Linked DNA regions of Homo sapiens: all the other regions are reported to be linked to region 7. The links are microRNA targets in miRTarBase. Many come from high-throughput screens and were not tested one by one. Region 7 holds a microRNA gene; each other region holds the end of a gene's coding sequence.

Region 1 (3,084 bases), not on the chromosome of region 7:
TTGAATTACATTCAACAACTGGTCCAAATTCAACCTCAAGTGCAGATTATTCTGTTATAAAAAAATGAGACAGTGAAAATCCTTCCATTGTCCAGCTTATAATAGAGTCCTTTTAGCTAAGAGGACTGGCTGACAGAATTTGGTTTTGCAGGGAATTTCTTTAGGAGGAGCTATTGGGGAAGGTCAGGAATGGCCCTATCTTTAGTTCTCCAAGAATGACCTGGGATGGGTAGGGGGTGCCTCCATTTCGGTTGGTTTTGAGTGTCTATTTTTCACATTAGTCTTTTTGATGATCCACATGTTGCAAAAGGAAAATGTAAAAAACACACCCCTCAAATTGCTTTGTTTCAGAATGCTTTTGCACCTTTGACTGATGCCAAGACTAGGAGCCATGCTGATGATGTGGGTCTCGTTCTTTCTTCATTGCAGGCTAGTATATACCGAGGGGGATACAACCGTTTTGCTCCATACTAAATGACAAAACCATAAAAACCTTCCAATGTGGGGAGAAAGGAAGCTTTCCGAGGCCTGAGTATTGCAATACATGCAGTAGTACATCATTTTAGCAACTCTAAAAAAAAAAAAAATACAAATAAAAAGGAAAAAAAATTACATTTTTTATCTTATACCTCAGATATTTTGTTCTGTGTATTTTAATATTGTGGGTCTTTAATTTCTGAAGGTTCCGTAGTTTGGTTGCTGGCTGTAGGAGTTTTTGTGGTTGATCTAGACAGATGCTAGATAATGAATAAAAACTGGTTTAGGGCCATATCCAGAGTGCTATATTATGTAAATGAATTATATATGCTGAATATTAAGCTACTGGGGTTATCAGCTATTTGGGAAGAGTGTAAGTGACTACAGTAGTCATTTTTTTCTGCACCTGCATTATTTTATTTTGCGAAAGGGGAGGTTGGGAGGGGCTTAGGGGATTGGAACTGGGGTTTGGCTGAAAGAAAAAAAAAAAAATGTAACTGATGAATCTAAACGACCCACTGCACCAACAATCATTTATCAATGGTTCTAAGTTACTCATTGCCAGTTCAAGCCAAAGGTCATGTTGTTAAGGGGGTGCTTCTAGTAGCACTTGTGCATCTGAGTTGAATGAAGCTGTGCAAACCCACCCTTTAAACCATTCCACCCGGCAGTATTCAGCTTCTTAACCAGTCGCTATTTAGGAAAAAAAACCCACTAGTTAGGCCATCAACAAGCATTCTTTTTATATTTCTTCCAGTATAATAAATTATTGATATCACTGCTGACTTTTATATTATGGGAGGGAAAAAATAACATTAATAAAAAGGTGATAAAAAAGCACTGTTTCTATTTTTTTCTTTTTTTCCAAAAAAAGAAAGTAATAAAAACTTAAATTCTTTGTACCAGTTAAAAAAAATGTATAAAATTTACATCTGTGCAGTGGAGTTGTTAAGTTCTAGAAACAGTCTATGAAGCTTTAGTTTTAGCCTAGTAGAACAACTGTTAGAGACAGACGTATAATTTTTATGGAATTACATGATAATCATATTCGGATTTATAGAAGCATTTTACAAGTATTGCAATCATTGAGTAGAGATAATCATGGTATTTTCATCAGCTTGGTACTTTTTGAAACGTGACTGCGTTGTGTGAACAATCTGCAATTTTTCAGTCCGTGAGATCCTGCCCTTCCACCTCTTTCCCATACCCCCAAGGATTATCTCAAAATGATCTCTTTAGTTCTGTCTCCAAGGCCCAGGACACTTGTCAGAAGGATGCAAAAAAAGAAAAAAGTACATCCACCCTCTTAATCCCAAAAGAACAAAGTCTCCCCACCTTTCTCGGATGCAGGGCCAGAGTGACACAGCCGAAAAATTGCAGTTTGTCTGTACTTCTGTTTGAACTTTCCACGTTGTCCTGTTTACAAGTTAACTTAAGTTGGGGTATCCGTCACGGGTCTTCCTGTTTTGTATTTAAATAAAAACAACAGCAGCAGGCTGTCCCTGAGTAGTTTTGCTGCCATAGGTTAAGTCCTCATGTGTACAGTGCAGGCCCTGTGGCCCGCACTTCAGTAAGTTATCAACTCTCACCGCTGTGAACCTGCCAATCCGCTGTAACAACTCTGCTTTAAAACAAAACCAAACAAAACTTTAAAAAAAAATGTGTGATCCAGCTTTCTCTTGCCATCCTATGTGCATGCCGTAAGATCAGTTGGATATTAAACCATCAATAAAGTTTCACAAGATTTGAAAACAAAGTTTCTGTAGCTTCGATACCTAAGACAGACGATAGTGATCTTGAAAAGAGAAAAGGGGGAGGGGGGAGCTACTTATCAGCCAAAAGCATATAAAGTGTTCTTTTCACCAGACTTCTTTGGGTGGGTGAGGGGAGGGGCAAGAGGGTGTTTTATAGCATCACTAAGACATTCTCATTCCCCCACCTGGAAAACAGTGTTATGGCAATGGGTGCCTGGTTGATGTTCTTAAAGGAAACGAATTATTAAAACACTATGACATCCTCCAGAGGGAAGAAAGAGTAGGAGCAGGGGGCTATGGAGAATAAATTTCTCCCAATTGCCGCCTCAGATTTCAAAATCCAGAATTTGTATTGTGTTTCGAATCACAAACATAGAATTCTTACTGTGTTGGTTAAAGTAAAATTCATTTGCAGTTTTGATTTTCATCAATGAGCTGTACTTTCCCCCATGACTGTATGTAGTTTTAATAAAATCATTTAGAGTGAGTGAGTGCCAACCGATGTTGCAGAATCTTTTGTCTAGGCACTCCAAGATGCCAATAAGTCATTTTAAAATGTATGTCAGAGATGTAAACAAACATTTTGGATTTTTTTTAAACAGTATTTATTTGGAATGTTTTCATTTATCTAAATAACTATTGCTATTATGAATTATGGAAAATTAATATTATGTGTGGCATATAGTGACTTCTTAACACACACATCACGCAATCTGCAAACCCAGAAAATGTGTATATCTGTCTTTAGAAATTAGTGTTTATATCACTTACAGTGGTTTGTGAATAAAGAAAACTGGTTTGTAATATCAAAAAAATAAAAGCTTAGTCTGAAAAGGTACAAGTTGGTGTTCTG
Region 2 (3,084 bases), not on the chromosome of region 7:
ATCACACCACTGCACTCTAGCCAGGCGACAGAGCGAGATTCCATCTCAAAAAAAAAAAAATCTTGTAAAAGGTGCCAACCAGGGTGCCTGCCCTAACAGGGATCAGCTCCATCTCTACCTAGGAAGTAGAGAAACACTCAGATCTTGTAGGTCTTTTCCCATTGTCTGTAGTCCTTATCTATAAGATGGAAAAATAGTGCCTACCTCGTGGCACATAAAGCCATGTGGTAGTACCAAGAATGAGCAGCTATCACTTTTTGAGCAATGAAGTCTCCCCTTCAAGTCCTCATTTAACCCTTCCAACTCCCCTATTAAGTACTATTGTTTTACAAATCACAAGGGAAAAACTCAGAGTCTTGACTTGCCCACCATGACACAGCTGGTGAGCAGAAAGGGCTGAGGCAACTGAGCATCAGCCTTCCTCTGCAGCCCCAGCCTCGGGAGTGTGCTGAGCAGGAGAGGTTCCCCGGGGGCTGGGTTAGTAGAGCTGGGCAAGGAAGGGGCAAGGCAGGGGCCAGGTGTGGTGGCTCACGCCTTTAATCCCAGCACCTTGGGAGGCCGAGGAGGGCAGATCACTTGAGCTCGAGTTCAAGACCAGCCTGGGCAACACAGTGAGAACCCATCTCTACTAAAAATATAAAAAATTAGCCTGGCATGGTGGTATGAGCCTGTAGTCCCAGCTACTCAGGAGGTTGAGGTGAGAGGACTGTTTGAGCCCAGGAGGTTGAGGCTGCAGTGAGCCAAGATCGTGCCACTGCACTCCAACCTGGGTTACAGAGTAAGACACCATCTCAAAATAATAAAATTAAATTAAAAAGAGAAAAGGGCAAGGCAGGAACTAGGAAGGGATTCAGCAAGGGCTCTATGCCTGGGAAGACAGGGCAGAGAGAGAATGAGGAGAGGAGGAGGGCTACTTCGGTCAAATCTAACCCCTGAGTGCTCAAACCAAGCCATTTTACAACTACCAAATACACTGCTGTAAAACCCTGTTTTTCTCTCCCAAGGCCATAGCTCAAGACTAGGTCAGTCTCAAAGGGGAAAGCAGGCTGGCTTCGCCTGTGCCCTCCCCATTTTGCACAAAAACGTCCAGATGAAAACCCACCTCCCTCCACCACAGCACCTCTTTGCTCTCCAGCCCAGAAAGCATTTCTAGAATACATTGTCTTTCCACAAAGGGAGTGGAAGCCCATCTTGCAGCTTCTAAAAACCTGGACTCAATTTTCTGATCTTGTGGAATAAAAACTTAGAAGCACTCAAGTCCTGTGGCTCTACTAGGATTCTGTGCCCATCAGCATTGGCCCAAACCATTTGTCCAGGTCCCCCCCCCCCGGTTTAGCCCAAGTGCCCTCTTTATTAAGGACATCCCCATATGCTTTTCTGCCCCTCTCCCACCTTCCACCAAAATGCCAAACCGTGCTCCAAAACAAAAGCCAAATTTATTCAGCAGACATTTTAATTATGAAATCCTATAAATCAGGACCACCACAATTTCAGACACTCCGTTGCGAAGTGTACATCAATAGCTACATCTGGAGGATGAACAAGCCATTGAATCTTTTAAAAATTGGTTTAGCTACCTTAAAGTTTGGGGGTGGCACCTTACAAAAGCGCCGTCAAGTTTCATACAGCCAGCGGCTTCTTCTCTGGGAGAGTCACATTTTAAAACCGGTTTCAGACACAAAAGAAGGGCTGGCACGGGAGGAGGAAATAAATTGTGAGGGTGAGGAGCCGCCGAGGCCGAGGCCCATGACTCCATGGAGGGCCAGAAGAGAGCAGAAAAACGTCCAGGGTCTCTCATGCATTCCTATAGACACCAGAAAGGGTGGAATAAGAAAGCTCAGCTGGGAGGACAAGAAAGAGACTCAAGAGATCGTTTATGACTGTTTCTGAGAAAGCTCCTGGCATGGCCATGAGTGGCCTTCCGGGAGTCCTGTAAAAAGGAAAGCACAGAAAACAGGAAAGAACTCTCCCTACACGTCCCTCTCTGCCTGTTTGTGTCCTCGGGAGACTCCAAGCGGTGGTAAAGCACCAACAGGGCTCTTCTTGGAGCAAGAGAAAGAAAAGACTCCGGGGTGAGTAAGCTCTCCCAGGAACCCCACAGCAAACCGTGACCTTGAACACAGATGGCAAGGTCAAGTCATTTACAAGTCCACATTCAAATCCAAATCTCCCACCTGCAAAATTCTTCACCTCTCTCCAGTCCCTTAATTGGAGTTCACATCTCCCACCTTCACCAGCCACCGAATCGGTGGGAAAAAGGGGCAATGCCAAGCCACCCACCACCAAACTTTTACATTCTTCTCCCCTCTGGAATTTCTTTGCACAGCAATTGTAGCACCACTTACTAAGCTCCTCCACCAGAAAATAAGAAAATGTATGCGTGTCGTTAGTTTTCAAGTATTGTTATAAAGCCATCGCGATTCCTACCCCTGAGCCCTCCTTAAACAATCCAAGCTCACGACGCCCCCAAGGGCTAAGTGAGGTACAAGTCGATGCAAGTAGCTGCCATAGTTCTCCCAGTTTATCCCAGGTCCTTGGGCTTGGATGGCCCGGGAAATTCTCATGCCCCACGGAAGCACCCTGGCGCATACATTTCTCCACGCTTAAGTTTTCTCCGACGGCCTCGCCGCGGCTGGTAACTTCTCTGGTTGAGATCTCTCCCCACGCGCCTCCCCGCAGCCAAAGTGGTCGCTCCCAGGCTGGCGACGTCGGCTTCAGCTCAGAGTTAGTAGGAACTGGACGCTGTTGGGTCTACGCAGCGGCCTCCACTTCCTCCTCCAGGAGGCCTGCGTCAGAGCAAGGAGCCTGAGGGCTGCAGGGCAATGCGGTCAGGTCCGCTGCGGCCTCCCCCGGGCCCAGGGGCGCTTGCGGGGCCCGTGGCTGCAACCGCGGCGACGGCTCGTTGGAGTCTCCGCACGGCTTCCTTGATGAGGTTTCCCGAGAGCACGAGCTGCTGGAGGAGCCGATGCGGGTCGTCGTCGCCGGCGCGTGCCCCGGCTTGGGTCCATCGGCGCTGCTGCAAGCGGCGGGAGGTGACCGCGTCCCTGAGCCATCCTCGCCGGCACGGCCCCGGCAGCGCGCTGG
Region 3 (3,084 bases), not on the chromosome of region 7:
GCTCTTATCCACCAAGAAAGCAAAACACACCAGTGTTTGCATTGCGACCACAAGAGTTCGAACTCAAGTGATTTGAAACGACACATAATTTCAGTTCACACGAAAGACTACCCCCATAAGTGTGACATGTGTGATAAAGGCTTTCACAGGCCTTCAGAACTCAAGAAACACGTGGCTGCCCACAAGGGCAAAAAAATGCACCAGTGTAGACATTGTGACTTTAAGATTGCAGATCCATTTGTTCTAAGTCGCCATATTCTCTCAGTTCACACAAAGGATCTTCCATTTAGGTGCAAGAGATGTAGAAAGGGATTTAGGCAACAGAGTGAGCTTAAAAAGCATATGAAGACACACAGTGGCAGGAAAGTGTATCAGTGTGAGTACTGTGAGTATAGCACTACAGATGCCTCAGGCTTTAAACGGCACGTTATTTCCATTCACACGAAAGACTATCCTCACCGGTGTGAGTACTGCAAGAAAGGCTTCCGAAGACCTTCAGAAAAGAACCAGCACATAATGCGACATCATAAAGAAGTTGGCCTGCCCTAACAATACTTCTACAGAACGTTTGTAGAGATATTGGCCTTGAAGCAGAAAATTCATTTTAAAGCCAATCAGTCTCATTCACATACAATACTGTATATTGATTTATGCTGTGTACAAATAGAATTATTACTTCTAGTTGACTTTTTTTTAAATATACATTTTGCTCAGTAGTGTGTTCTGAATTCTATTCAGTTTGTTTAATAAATAGGGAAAACTGGCAACATGCTAGTTACTTTTAATAAAGTAATCCCTGATTCTATACCGAAGTTTTATATCTTAGAATTTTATATTTATTTAAATATTTACCTTGCTTACCTTGATGGTACTCTTCTAAGACCATTAACTTAAGGTAACTTTATATTGGTAACTCTGAAAGTATTCATGTTGACTCATTTTTTTCCCCATACATTTCTCACAATAAAATTGTCAGAGACATCTACTAATATAAATGGGAGATTTTACAGTCAGGTCTAATTATCATAACATGGAAGTCATTTACTTGTCTTGCTTAATATTTTCAGACCACTTGACAGTGAAAGTTTCCATTTGAGCTGTTGCGTCCCTGGCTTTGCTGAGTAAAGAGCAGTGGCTGGGTTCGTGTTTACTTTTCAAATATACTTCTTTTGGCTTTCTTTGGATTATTTACATCTTTTGTCAGCGTAGCAAACTTTTAGAAAACCTTATTGAAAAACTGTGCTTGCTCATGTTGTATTTTGATTATTCTGTCTGTGCGGCTTCATCTTGGAATGGTTGTGTGCTACAAATGACACTTACTGAGGACTGCATTTTGGAATCTCCTAGAGGTAACTCATGGCTTATAGGATCTTTTGCAACTTTATGTATGTAAATGTACCCTGAATTATATATATACACATATATATCATGTACCTGTGTGTATTGCTTATTTTACATATTTATACACACAACCCCAAGTAGTAGTTGTTTAAAATCTATAATGAAAAGTATTAAATTTACAATAACATGAAAGATCCAGGGATGCATGAGAGAGCATTTTGTAAGTCATGCTCTTCAGAGAGACTACTCAGGTGAAGAATTAGAAGGAAAATAAGGACACTAGTATTTTTAAAGAGTAAAGATATTTTCTTTTAAATATCTTTGGTAATTGAAACATAGAGGTTAAGATGTTTCTAGGTAGAATGTTTTCATACAATTTCACCTCCATGTCTTTATGTTTTTCTGAAAAGCAAATGAGTATCCAGACATGACTCCCACAGTTCTCTTTGAGAAGCCTGAGAGGGAACTCTGTCTTACCTAGTGAGGGGGATGGAAAAGAAGTGATGGCTCTGTGGACCAGAGAACGGGTGCTAATTATGACTTCACACTCGGCAAGTTCAGGCTGATCTGTTATTTCTCAGTTACAGTTAGCAAACTTTAAAAACTTAACACTCAAGTTGGCTTTGATTAAAAGGTAAAGATGTGTTTTAAGTGGATAAGGAAAGTCTGAGGCCTTATTTGGAACATCACTAAGTCTTCCACAGGTTTTTTGTTTGTTTGTTTTTTTTTGTTGTTTTTTTTTCTTAAGACGGAGTCTTGCTCTGTTGCCCAGGCTGGACTGCAGTGGTGTGATCACTGCAACCTCTGCAGCTCACTGCAACCTCTGCTTCCTGGGTTCAAGCAATTATCTGCCTCAGCCTCTCGAGTAGCTGGGATTACAGGCGCCCACCACCACGCCCGGCTAATTTTTTGTATTTTTAATAGAGATGGGGTTTCACCATCTTGGCCAGGCTGGTCTTGAACCCTGACCTCGTGATCCACCTGCCTCGGCCTTCCATAGTGCTGGGTTTACAGGCGTGAGCCACCGTGCCCAGACACCACATAGGTCTGAATCAGTGTCATACATTCATAAAACAAACTCGGTTAATTAGAACTTGGTTATGTTAAGACGAATCTGGGAGAACAGAAAACAGTTTTTGGGGTCCCTTCAGTTGGCTATTGGTCCGTATGCATCTAGCACATTGTAGGAGATTTAGAAATTGTCTTCCCACCCGATAGCTGCCTTGTCACCTCATTATGGTGCTCCATCCCCTGTGTGCTTAGGTTTTTACCTTTCATCTTTCTCTTTGCCATTGATGTTTGTATTCAAGAGTTATATTTTTAGGGTTAGAAATCAAAATATTTGGTGTTTGGCAAACCTCTGAAGTGCTAGACTGATTTAGTCTAGTTTTAAACCAAGTGCTTTAGGCAGGTGTGAACTCCAGCCCAAATGCCAGTCAAAGTCAAGGCATGGGTTTTCCTAGCCTATCTTATAGGAAATTCCTGTACCTTCTTGGCCCCCATAATGTGTTTTTTTTTTTTTTTTTTTTTTAAACTAACTTACAATTTTGTGATCCGTGATTCATTGCCCTGCGATTCTTGAAAGCTCTGTCTGTTTTTTTGTGAGAACCTTTAAAATCTCCCTTAATTTTTATTTTCCCAGAAATAATGTAAAAACACTTAAATGAAAGTGGAAATGTATTAATTTTAAATCCTATAAAATTAATACAGAAAATATAAATGATTGGGTCATTTAACTATATT
Region 4 (3,072 bases), not on the chromosome of region 7:
ATTCCTGTTTTTAGCCCAGGATGCAAATGACACTGACCCTAAACGAGCCCACATTTAATGATCTGTTCACGCACTTGAAGATGTACTCTGTGTACCAGTACGATGTTGCCACTAGAAGTCTGAACTGAGCAAAACATTCACAGTCTGGGTTTGGAAATAGCAGTGGCAAAACAGAAGCCACAGGATGGCTTCCATGTGGGGCCGTTCCCAATACAGAGAAAGCCAGTGCCACGAACTCAGCAGGACTTGGGGTGGCCCTGTTCACGTGCCCCATCTTGCTGTTGCAGGTGCGTCCTGGGAAACACTACCATCCTGGCCGAGTTCGCTGGTGAAGAAGAAGTGAATCGCTTCTTAGCCCAAGGCCAGGCGCTGCCACCCACTTCCAGCTGGCAGTCCAGCAGCGCGTCCAGCCAGCCGCGGCTCAGCGCAGCGGGCAGCTCCCATGGCCTGGTACGCAGCGACGCTGGCCACTGGAACGCCCCGTGCCTGGGTGGCAAGGGGAGCAGTGAGCTGCTGTGGGGCGGGGTGCCCCAGTACTCCAGCAGCCTGTGGGGCCCGCCCAGCGCCGACGACAGCAGGGTGATAGGCAGCCCCACGCCGCTAACCACCCTGCTGCCTGGGGACCTGCTCAGCGGGGAGTCCCTGTAGGCTCTGCCATCATCAGCACCAGGAGAGCCGACCCCTCCCGGGACCCCTCCCGGCTGGGCGGCCCCACAGACCCGCTGGAACCCAGCAGCGGCCGCCCTTTTGAGTACCTCTGTCCAGGACTGAAGACGAACCTTGGCCGCAGTCCTTGCGAACTGTTCGCAAAACAGTGCGGGCTGCGGTGGGTCAGCGTCACATGCTAATGACAGGATGTTCCTCGTAGCTTTTTATTTTGTGCGTCTTATGTTTGTATAGTGTGTTGTCATTTTGATTTTTTTTTTTTTTTTAAGTATAAAAGCTGCTTAGAATAGTTCTATCATGAAGGGCACTTTTCAGATTGTGGGCTGGAAAGGGTTATTTTATCTGTGGGGGAGGGAGGGAGACGTGAAGCCTATTTAAAATGAGCCTGTGACGATTATGCACATGACCAGAGGCGGCCGGTAATCAGGGCAGAGTCTGGTGTGGACCGCCGGGCGCAGAGCGGCTCCGCGGCGGGAGCTGAGCGGAAGGCGCGGGCTGCGATCTGCTCTCTGTTCCCCTGGATCCGCCTATGCACATTACCCTTGTTTCATTACTTTTTCATGTCATTTTTTTATCCCAAAAAATATTTTTTAAAAGTTAAAAAAAGACATATCAAACATGCAAATACTTGAATCCAGCAGGCCAATAGTGAAATGTGAACACTTTCTAATTCTACACTTCCAGGTTGACATCAGTACACAGAAACAGGCTCTAGGAAAAATTTCTAAGTTCATAGCCTACGTGTGTGTATGTGTGCGTGTTGAAACAGAAGTGTGTGTGTGTGTGCATGTGTGGCGCGTGCTCCTGCACGGCGTGCAGTTTTCTGTGTTTGTGTGTTTGAAAGCGTGTGAGGATTTAACTGTGGGTTTTCCCTTGTATTCAGTATACGCTTTTTTTTTGGCGCATTGGTCAAACGGTTGTTATTATTAGCTTCTAACTTTGCACTGAGTGTCCTCGCCCTTCCTTTAGCTAATCCTATACATTACAGAGAATTCCTAGGACAGGGCTGGCGACAATTCATGTGTAAATGTTTACTCAAGGACTCTGTGACTGCGTTTAAAAAGTACAGTGTATATCTCTGGAGAAATAACATGTATACCTACCTTTAGCAGCTTTTTATTGTGGACTAATGCAAGAAAATTATTACCAGAGTATTGCACCATTTTTCCATTTGGAATATAAAGTTAAAGAGAAAAAAAAAAAAAACTGTTGTTGAACTGTGGCCATAGATACTTGTAAAGAATGGATGGTTCCGTGGAAGGAACAGAAACAAGCACTTGGGCGTGGGTTGTGACTGCTTTTGGGGGAGCCTGGGGTTTGGGCTCCCACCTGTTTACAGACCTTTTTTTCTCCTTCAGACTTTAAAATTTTAAAAATTTAAAAAGGAATTAAAAAAAAAAAAAGACTTCCGTCGTAAAGAAACCTATTTTCAGAATGCAGATGCGTTCCTTCAGAGCTCTGGGACGGGACAGTGTTGTTCCCTCGGCCATCGTCGTGGACTCTGTCGATTGCTTTCGCCCCTTCGTCAAGGTGACAGGCGTTGTGGCCACTGTCTTGCACATGCCGGACGCGCTCTCAGGAAAGCCAGGGCTCCCGAGGGCAGCTCCACACCATTTCATGTATTTTTAAACCCAACTCCTAGCACTGAAGATGTTATTTAAAAAAAAAAAAAACAAAACAAAACAAAAAAATGAAAAAAAAGAAAAAGAGGAAAAAAAAACACAAAGAAGAAAAATACCTAATCTCTAATGTGTAGCAGTTACATATTTACCAAATAATGGACTCAAAAGAAATAGATGTTTGAAGAGTGCTTTATATATTAAAAATTGCTTTATGTTTTAAAAATGATCAATGTTTTGATTGTTTTGCAAGGAAGAAAGACAATGGAATAACATACCTTCAAGTATGTTTTAAAAAATATATATATGAACATTGTGCTCCCTGCCTGCTTGATCAGGAAACTTGTGCATTACATTTTTTTAATTAGCTTTTTAATGGTTTTATCAAAACAAAAAAAATACAAAAAAAAAAAAAAAAGTCCTGCAAGACTGCAGATCCACAAAAGCTGGTTTTATAGAGGATCATGAACTATGCACAAACTGGGTTCAAGACTTTTTTTCTCAAGTTTAGTAGGATATTTAGAAAAACCAACCTTCCTCAGAGTGACTGCATCTCATTGCCATTACATGCGTTCTATATATTCGATGGACATACACCTGCGTATGTATATCCAATATGTGTGCGTGTGAGCATGCGTGTGCGTATGTGCGTCCGACATACCACTTCCCGTGCTGCCGGCGAGCATTGAGTTGTAGAAAAACTGTTGTTTTAAAATTGGGGATGGAAGTCAAGAATATGTTTGTTTGTTTTTGGGTTTTGTTGGGTTTGAGGGGTTTTTTGTTTGTT
Region 5 (3,084 bases), not on the chromosome of region 7:
CTATATGATCAGAACTTTGACTTTCTCTGCCAGGCCATTTTTATTATCACTTATTAAAGGCTTATTACATACCAGGAAGAATTTTAAGAGCACATGTAACTCATGTAACTCATTTAACTGTCATAATATTTCTGTGCGGTTTTCGTTGTTTTGATGTTATACATAAAGACTCCAAGACACAGTGAAGTTTAGTAACTTGCCAACAGCTACGGAGGCTGCTGGCAGAATCTGTGACCTTATCTGCTGCACTGCACTGCCTCACTGTGCTTTTTTGCTCATGTTCTGCATGTTTTAACAAACTGTCATGCTCTGTTCCTTAGGTCCCATCAGTTTCTTCCAGTGTGTCTACTTGGATGGGTACAATGGCTATGGATTTCAGTTTCCTTTCACTCCTGCAGACCGCCCTGGAGAGAGCTCTGGTCAAGCAAATTCTCCAGGACAGAAGCAACAAGGACAGTAAACACACATGTATGACCCTTACAAGTGCTTTAAGATTTTAAAAATGTGATGTTTTGTCCACAGTAGTTCAGGCAATTAAGAATATGCAACCCAGAGAATTTCTGTGAAAACATTTTGCTCTTTGGCCTGGTGTGGACGGAAAGGGTGGCCAAATGGATTGAGTGATGAGCAGACATGTTTAAGGGTCTAAGTCTCAAGAATCTGTTATGTGTGTTTGCTGCGGTGGGAGGGGGTGCTTGTATTTATCTTATTTCCAGTCACTATAAGGTTGTACACAAACTAATTTAAAGTTTACTTAATAATGGTATCTTTAAAATAATTGACACAATTGCAAAATGAATTCCTGGCTTCAGTTAGCTATTATTTTTTTAATGACAACATAGACTGTGCTCTAAGTTTAAAAGATGGGGAAGCTTATATAAAAGTGACCCTTTTGCATCATATGGGTATCTAAACTTAATTTACCCAATAAGTTGATGCTTAATGATTTTATTTTATTTTTGTCTATTTCTATTTTAGTTGTGGCTTTGCTCTAAGAATGGGTAATAGTTGTACTACAGACTGCTATAAATTTCTTGTGATACTCTTTTAGAGCTCAAAATATCTCTGAGCTTTAGACATGGTAAGGTGGAGAGTAAATGCTTGATAAATCTTTAAGATATGTCTTGAATGATAATTAGGACATTCAGTCCAGTGGAAATACACCATTCAATTAGTCAGGTCTGGTGAATCGTTTGTTTAAAATATTAGCAAATGAGATGTGGAATTCTGAAATTTCTCCAGACTGTGTCTTAATAAAAATGTCACCTGGGTGAAATTTTAGATCAATCACTAAATTTGGGTGACAAATATAAAAATATTTTCATTTCACTTTAATACATTCTTTCTGTGAAGTAAAATGTTTTTCTTTCTCATAATGGCAAAATATGAATGCCATCAAAGTTTAAGGAATTCATTTTAGCCTTAAATGCCTTCGTGAGATGTCTTACTTGTATTTTAGGTAACTGGTCATCAGTGCCAATGACATGGATAACAATTTTTAATCTACTCGACAGTGCATCCCTGGGAATGACTGTTATGTTTTTGTCATATTCCTGGTAATATAAATACTCGTGTTCTTTACTACATTGTTTTTATCAACTCTAAAAGTCATGCCTCTGTGACCTTTATCATGTTTACAATTGCAACTGAACTTATGACAAATTAACTCAGGAAATAAATTGAGTTATCCTTTCTAGCATTGTAATTACCATCAGCAAGGCCTGAGATAGCCAGAGCCAATACTAGCCAAGTGATTTATTTTCAAGGATTGCCACTAACTACGGTTCTTTAGGACCAAGATATAAAACAGTCACTAAAAATCATTAGGCTAGGTATCAGTAATACATTCATTACTAATAATGCATTTTTGGAGACTTTTGTGAAAGAAGTTGGTCTCTGCCAAAAGCTGGTGGACCACATTCACACCACGAAAGCCAGTGTCACATGAACCAGATTAATGACTCTCTTTATGGGGTATGTGGGACATCCTGGAAGTGTATAATTTCAGGAATGACCAGACAATACCATCTTGCAAAGCCCCTTCAGGTGACAATCTAAACTTGTGGGTAGGAGAGTGCATAAAGTTTATTGCTCAACTGCTCCTCCAGCCTGCTGAATTTACTGAGTAAAGAAATAGCAAATATGATAGATGTTTTAGATTTCATAGAACAGAATGGTTTGTCCATTAATTCTTTCATTCAATGACTGTTTATTGAATACCTACTCTTTTAGGGCGCTGTGTTAGGTGCTGTATTGTACAAGAAAAATATAATAAATTAGATTCCCAGCGCTATTCTGACATAGTGAATGACCTTGAAAAATTTACTAAACATACTATGTTTGTTTCTCCATGAGTAAAATAGGGATATAGGGACAAACAGTCTAATATCTCATAGAAATACCATGGAGACAAATAAAATATTTTAATATAAATATGATATTAAAGTAAATTTCTGAAGTAATACTTTTGGGTATGGCACTAGTTTTTCCTCTGACTATTTTACTGTTTCTTTCACTCTCAATATAAAAACTATTTGATAAGATAAAACGATATATTTTATTGTAATTAGAATTTAGACAAATCAGCTATAATGTAAAAATGTTAATAATAATTACGTTTTATCTGATTAAAGTTACAATGATCATAGCACTTTAAAAATATTATCTGAACTGTCATTTGTTTATATATTACCGTCTAATAAAATAGTTATAGATCTTCCAAGTTTGATGCCTTACATTTTAAAAGGAAAAGATAAATGGTTGATTAAGAATCTTTGTCTTTAATGGTTCATTCATAATTCAAGTTATACTGGCCAGGAATATGTAAGCATTTCATAATTGTTTTAGTTATTTTGCACAATTGGTACACACTACTCCCATTACATCCCTGCGTTTACCCACCCTTCATCCCCTCTTAATAGATAAAGATCTGAAAATAAGAATCGATTTTTCCTTAGGTTTTTGATTTATATTTAGTTTTCCTAAAGCCTGATAAATCATTATTCAAATGGGGCAAGTGTTTTTTTGTTTCTTTTTTTTTTTTAATGAACCCTAGCAAAAGCACCTGTATGTTGACTCATTCTG
Region 6 (3,076 bases), not on the chromosome of region 7:
TCCCTTTAGAGATGAGCCTCCAAGAAGTTACATTACTTGCCCAGGATTATAGGTAGTAAGTATTAAAGCCAGGTTATAAACTAAGGACTTTATAACCTTGAAACTACTTATTTATCTGCTTACTACAAGTTTGGTAAATGGATAGTCTTGCTTTTTGCTATTATACAAATTAGGTAGCAAGTCAAACCGCCACTGTTTGAGTTGCAAATACAAGACGTAACAAGTAAAATACTGTTACGTGGTGGGTCTCTGTGGCAGGCTTCCTCTCCCCCCCATATGGATAATTGTATACTAAATTCACCATAAGGTGAAAAATGGATATTGAGTTCCCTTCATGAAAAGTTATATAAAATATATATTTAGCATAAACTTCTCCAGAGTTGTCCTTTATTAAGTTTCTTTACAGAAACTTTAATTGGTGCCATGATTCTTGTGGGGGAAAGAATCATAAGAGCCATCAACTTTTTTCCTTTCATTTTAGCATATTCCAAGCCCTGCCAAGAAAGTACCAAGACTCCCTGCCACAGCAGCAGAACCTGAAGCAGCTGTCATTAGTAATGGGGAACATTAAGATACTCTGTGAGGTGCAAGACTTCAGGGTGGGGTGGGCATGGGGTGGGGGTATGGGAACAGTTGGAGGAATGGGATATCTGGGGATAATTTTAAAGGATTACATGTTATGTAAATTTTTATGTGACTGACATGGAGCCTGGATGACTATCGTGTACTTGGGAAAGTCTCTTTGCTCTATTTGCTGACATGCTTCCTGTTGTGGTCTGGCCAATGCCAAATGTACTCGAATGATGTTAAGGGCTCTGTAAAACTTCATACCTCTTTGGCCATTTGTATGCATGATGTTTGGTTTTTAAACATGGTATAATGAATTGTGTACTTCTGTCAGAAGAAAGCAGAGGTACTAATCTCCAATTAAAAAATTTTTTAACATGTAAGAATTTTGTACTTTGAACAACAAGATTACAGAAAGTACCTGTGGTTTTTGGAAAACATTTCTAGCTTGGGGAATGTGACAACATTCCCCAGTGTGGTAAAATTGGGGTAAAATGTGGTAAAATGTGATACGCACAAACCCTTTGAAAATAGCAAAACAAACATGCCCTTTTTCTAAAATTGATAAATCCTAAAGAGGAAGAAAAGAGCTGGGACAATAAAACACTGGCTCTGGAATCTGGAATGTTAAGTCCAGGCCAGCAGTGACAAAAGTTATTGTAATGACCTCTGAACAGAGAAACACTGCCATTGAAGAGGCTTCTGGTATAGAAAACATGGTACATTCAGGAGCTGTGAATATAGCTCTAGGTGTGCTCCTGAATCAGTTCATGGTAGATTATGCTGAACAACAGTGAGATGTTATTGGAGGTGTGGATGAGGGAGTTTGTTGTTGCAGTCCTTCTTTGCACCTTATTTTAAAGAATAAATGAAACATTTTTCTGGTTACTTTTTTAAAAATTTAAAATGGAAGGGAAGAATAGGGGCAGGGCATTATTAGGCTATTTCTGATGCTTCAGTGTTATAAATTCAACATAGAGGCTGACAACCTAAATTCATGGTGTAACACAGCTCTTTTCCTTTTCCTTTTTTTTTTTTTTTTGGTATCTGTTCAATGAAAATAAGGTATGACCCAAGTTTTTACCTAGTCTGACTAGAAGTATTCCACTTCAAGGTCTGAAGTAGGACTTTTACCTTAAAAAACAACAACAAACAAAACTATCACACAGGATAGATAAGAAGATTGGTTAAACAGTTTTGTGTAGATCTTTTTGGTGCTGAACTATGACATGAGCCTTATAGATTGTAAAATAGGGATAGTTGGAACTAATGTACAGAACTAAATTTTTTAAACTTTATTTGCTGTTAAATTCTGTGAAGTTTCAGTTATCTAAAATAAATATACACAAATATGAAATATAATGTTTCAGATTGCAAGGTAATATGTAATAGTAGTGTTTGTAAGATACTCTTGTCTAATATTAACTAGTAGTATTTTGATTTGTACAGTCATAATTTGTTAAAATGACTTCATTTAACATTCACTGATGTAGATTAATAATGTAAGTTCTGATTTAAAGAATGGTGGCAAAATGGTGCATGTAATACTTTTGCAAGTGTTGGGGAGATCGGTATGTTTTGAAAAGAGTAATTTAACTTTTGGGTGCCAGGAAATGGGTTTTCTCAAAGTCCATTGCCGGCAATGGGCAGGCCTGCAAATACTGGCACAGAGCATTAATCATACACCTTATTAACGGTGAGGTGAATAACTTTGAAATAAAGTTTTAGAGAAATGTTTCAGATACTTGAGTATTCTTTTTCACTCTTGAACTAACAACTTCGGCAAGAAATCAGCTAATATTCTATTTTTAAATATGGGCATTAATTTCATTTCAGTTCGTTCACTCATTCCATTCATTTATCATTTCACAAACATTTGAAATCCTAATATAAGCAAGGTGCTCTGTTTAAGGCAGAAATTTGAAAATGTACAAGATATATGGTCTTGTCTTTAAGGAGCTGTTCATCTAGAATGGAGGAATTTACACTGATAATTATTCCTACACTTGAAACAAAGAAATTAACTCTCAAATTGCGTGGCAAGCATATATAGACTTTGCTATAAATATTTATGAAATGAGTTACTGTTTTCCTTAAAAAAGCTAAGACTAAGGGCTGGCAATCAAATAAGAGCAAATTTAGTGGTGAACGTAGAACTGCCCACTACCAGCTAGAGTCTCCAACCTAAAAGTCCCATGTTGCTAGTGATCCCCAGGGGTTTTATAGAAGGAATCCCTGCATTGGCAGTAATTTTGGATTAGATGATCCCTAAGAGCACCATCAAGTCTTAGGATTCTATGAATTAGGAAATAAACCAAATTATATATTTTCTAATACTGATCAGCTCATATTTTATCATCATGTCATGTCTGGCTTTCATACTTAGTCATAATTTACTTTCTGGGTCATTTAGAGGCTAGCGTTCTCTAAGGTCACTTCTGCTTGCACATTGTAGGATATTATTTAGTATGGCTTTAAGAATTCAATCTTTCCCCCTCTCCTTTATGGA
Region 7 (3,084 bases):
TGGATAATTTTTCTATTTTTTATAGGGACTGGGTCTCACTATGTTGCCCAGGCTGATCTCAAACACCTGGGCTCAAGCAATCCTCTTGCCTTGGCCTCCAAAAGTGTTGGGATTACAGGCATGAGCCACCGTGCCCAGCCCACATATGTATTTTCTTCTCTCTGGGAAACTAGCCTTCGTTTTCTCCAATTATTGACTTATTTCTTTTTCACCCAGGCTTTGTGTTAAGCTCCTGGATCTCTATGAAACCGCTGCTGATACTTCTATTAGCTTCTGTTAAAAGAAATGAAAAACTTCACCTTACAGGTTTCTTTCAGCATCTCTAAAAGTCTCTGTTGTTAATATAGTATTGAGACTTATCCCCACCATAGTCATTTGCATAAAATTATTATACTGTATATAAAAGTTTAAGATGTAACTTTAAATGAACATGAATTATAGGTATGGATAATTGCATTAATTTTGGAAATTTGTGTTGAATTTTCTTCTCTAAGTGGATATCTCTTAGTGCTGCTCAACAGTTAGCCCATTTTATCTCTTCATTTATGTTGGCCATTTTTCATTTATATCTTCTGAAAAAAATTCATGTATATGTTCTGAAAAAATAACACACTGTATACAATTAATTGTATTTGCCCAATTTTTTAGAATATTTGTTTATATGTATACTTACAGGCTTAAAAAAATCATTCACATGGTCCAAAGTGACTGATGTTTAAAAGTGACAGCTATATGAGGGAAAACGTATATGGACAGATATATGTCATATAATCATGCCATACACACACACACACACACACACACACACACGTGGGTGTGAATGAATGCCATCTTCTAAGATCTGTACATTTGACCACTATTAATCTGTGGTTCTTGAAAATTAATGAGATTAATTCATAAACCAAGTGATTTTTGAAGCCTGCAGTCTGGCGAGTCAGGTTGGTTCTGTTCCTTTAGATAGCTTAACTGAGTACAAAATTTGGGGTATAGCATTTCAGAAGATCCTGCTGTTTCTACCATTAGTTTTGAATGTTTATTGTAAAGATACTTTTCAACTCTAATGGGAGAGACAGCAGGATTCTCCCAAAAATTCAAGTAAAAATCTGCACGAGGAAAAGAAGTCTCCTGAGATGGATTGAATTCTTCTGAAGAGAAAAATATATAATTTACTACCACCTAAAATATGAATGAAGATATATGTGAGGAGCTTTTTAGAGGAGAATTTATCTTATATTTATTATCAGAAAGTGCTGTGAATTTAAAATCTTTCTTTTGCCCAAGTCAAACAGAATTTCCAGTAATAATGAGAAACGTGTGACTCTTGACCATTTTGTTTACCAAATAATGTAGTGTGAGATATCTCTACTACAGTAATAACTTCCGGTGTAATTTACATTGGCGTTTGTTAACAGCAAAAGACCTCTCCTGTGGGGGTTAAGAATATTTAATCCTTTAAAGCTGACATATATAACATGTAGCTATGTCAGCTACAGCTGTTTCTAAACATCAGTAACAAAATTATAGACAGGTTTTGAAGCTTCTGTGGTGGGAATGAATACATCTGAGGATTCAACTTGCTGACAGTGTTTTTGTAATTTAATCTTACCATCTGGTAGAAAGTAAACATTTTTTATAAAATTAAAGTTTATAAAGTGAATCGCTTATAGTTTCCGATTGTTGTGAATGACAAATTTAAGTGTACTTTCATTGAAGAATGAATGGAGATTCTGCCACTGTTTTGAGATGCATACTAGATCGCAACTGATTTTGCCATTTGATCTTCATTGGTTCCTTGAACAGTAAACAAATTGGCACTTTCATGTCAGCTAAGGATTCTGTGTTTCATATGTCTTTCATTCCTTTAAGATAGCATACATGTTGTTACTTGTTTTGCACAGAAGAAACTAGGGCTTGGCAATTTGTATGTCGGTAATGTCAGATAAGTGATGTCACAAATAGAATGTACCTCTGAACTGAAAATAAATGATTTTTTCATTGCATTTCATACTTTCTTCTATAACGTAGTTATATTTGTATAATATGCATTTAGCTATTGTCTAAACTATTATGGTGTAATCCAGTGTATTTGCTTTGCAAGTAGCACCTTTCTTTCTCCTTAGAAGTTGGCAAATTAGCAGATTTGTGAAATTGACAAATTGGTTTACAAACCCTGCCAAATTCAAACTTTATAAATCTGATCTACGCCTTTTACTTGAAATAAATATACACGCTGATAGACTCTTGTGTTTATAGTTGTGCCCTGTGTTAAATTGAAAGCCTACACTCTATGATGATGTAATAAAATTTAATTAGTTGTAAGTCAGGTTTTGGTTAATGGTAATTAGTTTAGTGTATAATTATTACATCTAATAGCAATCTGAAGTCTGCAAGCATTTTGATCTTTTTCCAAGTAAAAAGAAAAAAAACCACAAAGCTCCTGTAAGATTTATAGCAGAAATTGCAATAATAAAATCACATTAGCTAATTTCATTAGATAAATCACAGAAAATGTTAAGTGGCAAAGTAAAATTTCAGTGATGATGTACATGTGTTATGTTGAGCTGGTACATAAAATATTTTTAAGTGAGTTTTTTTTCTTTTCAATTAAAACTATCTAATGCGACTTTTGATGCTTCTTACTATTTAAAATACATCATCGGTAGTTTTGCATGGCAAAATTAAATGTTATTCCCATAACAGCTATTGTAGAGTGATCATCAGGGTCAATACATGCTTTAAAAATCAAAGAAATTTTATTAATAAATTTGAAAAATACCTTTAATTCACTGAGTTCTGACCCATAAAATTTTTACAGGAAGTATTGCCTGCTTCCAACAGAATAAAAAGTAGCTTTCAGCTAACAAGGCAGTAACACAAAAATATATTAATACCACGTAAGTAAATGTACATGAGCTTTTAAATTAGTATGTTTAATAAATTAAAAAGCATAATGTCTCCCTGAGTTACTAGATACTGTTATATTTAATTAGTCTATGAGCCCAAGATTAAATCAGGGAGCTAGTCATATTATACTTTTGGCATTTTCCTACTTCTCCTTTCAATCCCTTTCCCTAATAGAAACCT

What was found. The annotated mature microRNA hsa-miR-1305 reads UUUUCAACUCUAAUGGGAGAGA and lies in region 7 at 1,049-1,070, shown strand. An mRNA with a match to its seed (bases 2 to 7 or 8) in the 3' UTR can be bound and repressed. Matches are read on the target gene's strand: a 7mer-m8 pairs with bases 2 to 8, a 7mer-A1 pairs with bases 2 to 7 and ends in A, and an 8mer does both.
Region 1: the mRNA of RBFOX1 is a reported target of hsa-miR-1305. Seed matches in the 3' UTR shown: 7mer-A1 at 2,223-2,229 and 7mer-A1 at 2,274-2,280.
Region 2: the mRNA of FRAT2 is a reported target of hsa-miR-1305. Seed matches in the 3' UTR shown: 7mer-A1 at 2,391-2,397.
Region 3: miRTarBase lists ZFX as a target of hsa-miR-1305. Seed matches in the 3' UTR shown: 7mer-A1 at 1,230-1,236.
Region 4: the mRNA of TNRC6C is a reported target of hsa-miR-1305. Seed matches in the 3' UTR shown: 7mer-m8 at 1,426-1,432.
Region 5: the mRNA of TRDN is a reported target of hsa-miR-1305. Seed matches in the 3' UTR shown: 7mer-A1 at 2,314-2,320.
Region 6: the mRNA of HMGCS1 is a reported target of hsa-miR-1305. Seed matches in the 3' UTR shown: 7mer-A1 at 1,092-1,098, 7mer-A1 at 2,146-2,152 and 7mer-A1 at 2,488-2,494.

What each region holds. Positions count from the first base shown.
Region 1 is chr16:7,710,272-7,713,355 of GRCh38, forward strand. RBFOX1 (RNA binding fox-1 homolog 1) reads left to right here. Exons shown (of 16, transcript NM_018723.4): 16 at 352-3,069. The coding sequence ends at 474. Among named protein-coding and RNA genes, the nearest start is that of LINC02152, 580 kb to the right of the region's middle.
Region 2 is chr10:97,331,080-97,334,163 of GRCh38, forward strand. It overlaps FRAT2 (FRAT regulator of Wnt signaling pathway 2), which reads right to left. Exons shown (of 1, transcript NM_012083.3): 1 at 1,418-3,084. The coding sequence ends at 2,792. Among named protein-coding and RNA genes, the nearest start is that of FRAT2, 2.1 kb to the right of the region's middle. RefSeq lists an enhancer at 2,361-3,084 and silencers at 2,819-2,868, 2,879-3,008.
Region 3 is chrX:24,210,828-24,213,911 of GRCh38, forward strand. ZFX (zinc finger protein X-linked) reads left to right here. Exons shown (of 10, transcript NM_003410.4): 10 at 1-3,084. The coding sequence ends at 549. Among named protein-coding and RNA genes, the nearest start is that of ZFX, 63 kb to the left of the region's middle.
Region 4 is chr17:78,104,198-78,107,269 of GRCh38, forward strand. TNRC6C (trinucleotide repeat containing adaptor 6C) reads left to right here. Exons shown (of 23, transcript NM_001142640.2): 23 at 288-3,072. The coding sequence ends at 648. Among named protein-coding and RNA genes, the nearest start is that of TMC6, 23 kb to the right of the region's middle.
Region 5 is chr6:123,215,977-123,219,060 of GRCh38, reverse strand. It overlaps TRDN (triadin), which reads left to right. Exons shown (of 41, transcript NM_006073.4): 41 at 321-2,722. The coding sequence ends at 460. Among named protein-coding and RNA genes, the nearest start is that of CLVS2, 220 kb to the right of the region's middle.
Region 6 is chr5:43,288,626-43,291,701 of GRCh38, reverse strand. It overlaps HMGCS1 (3-hydroxy-3-methylglutaryl-CoA synthase 1), which reads left to right. Exons shown (of 11, transcript NM_001098272.3): 11 at 482-3,076. The coding sequence ends at 571. Among named protein-coding and RNA genes, the nearest start is that of HMGCS1, 23 kb to the left of the region's middle.
Region 7 is chr4:182,168,295-182,171,378 of GRCh38, forward strand. MIR1305 (microRNA 1305) reads left to right here and starts at 999; the gene lies at 999-1,084. It also overlaps a transcript of TENM3 not described here.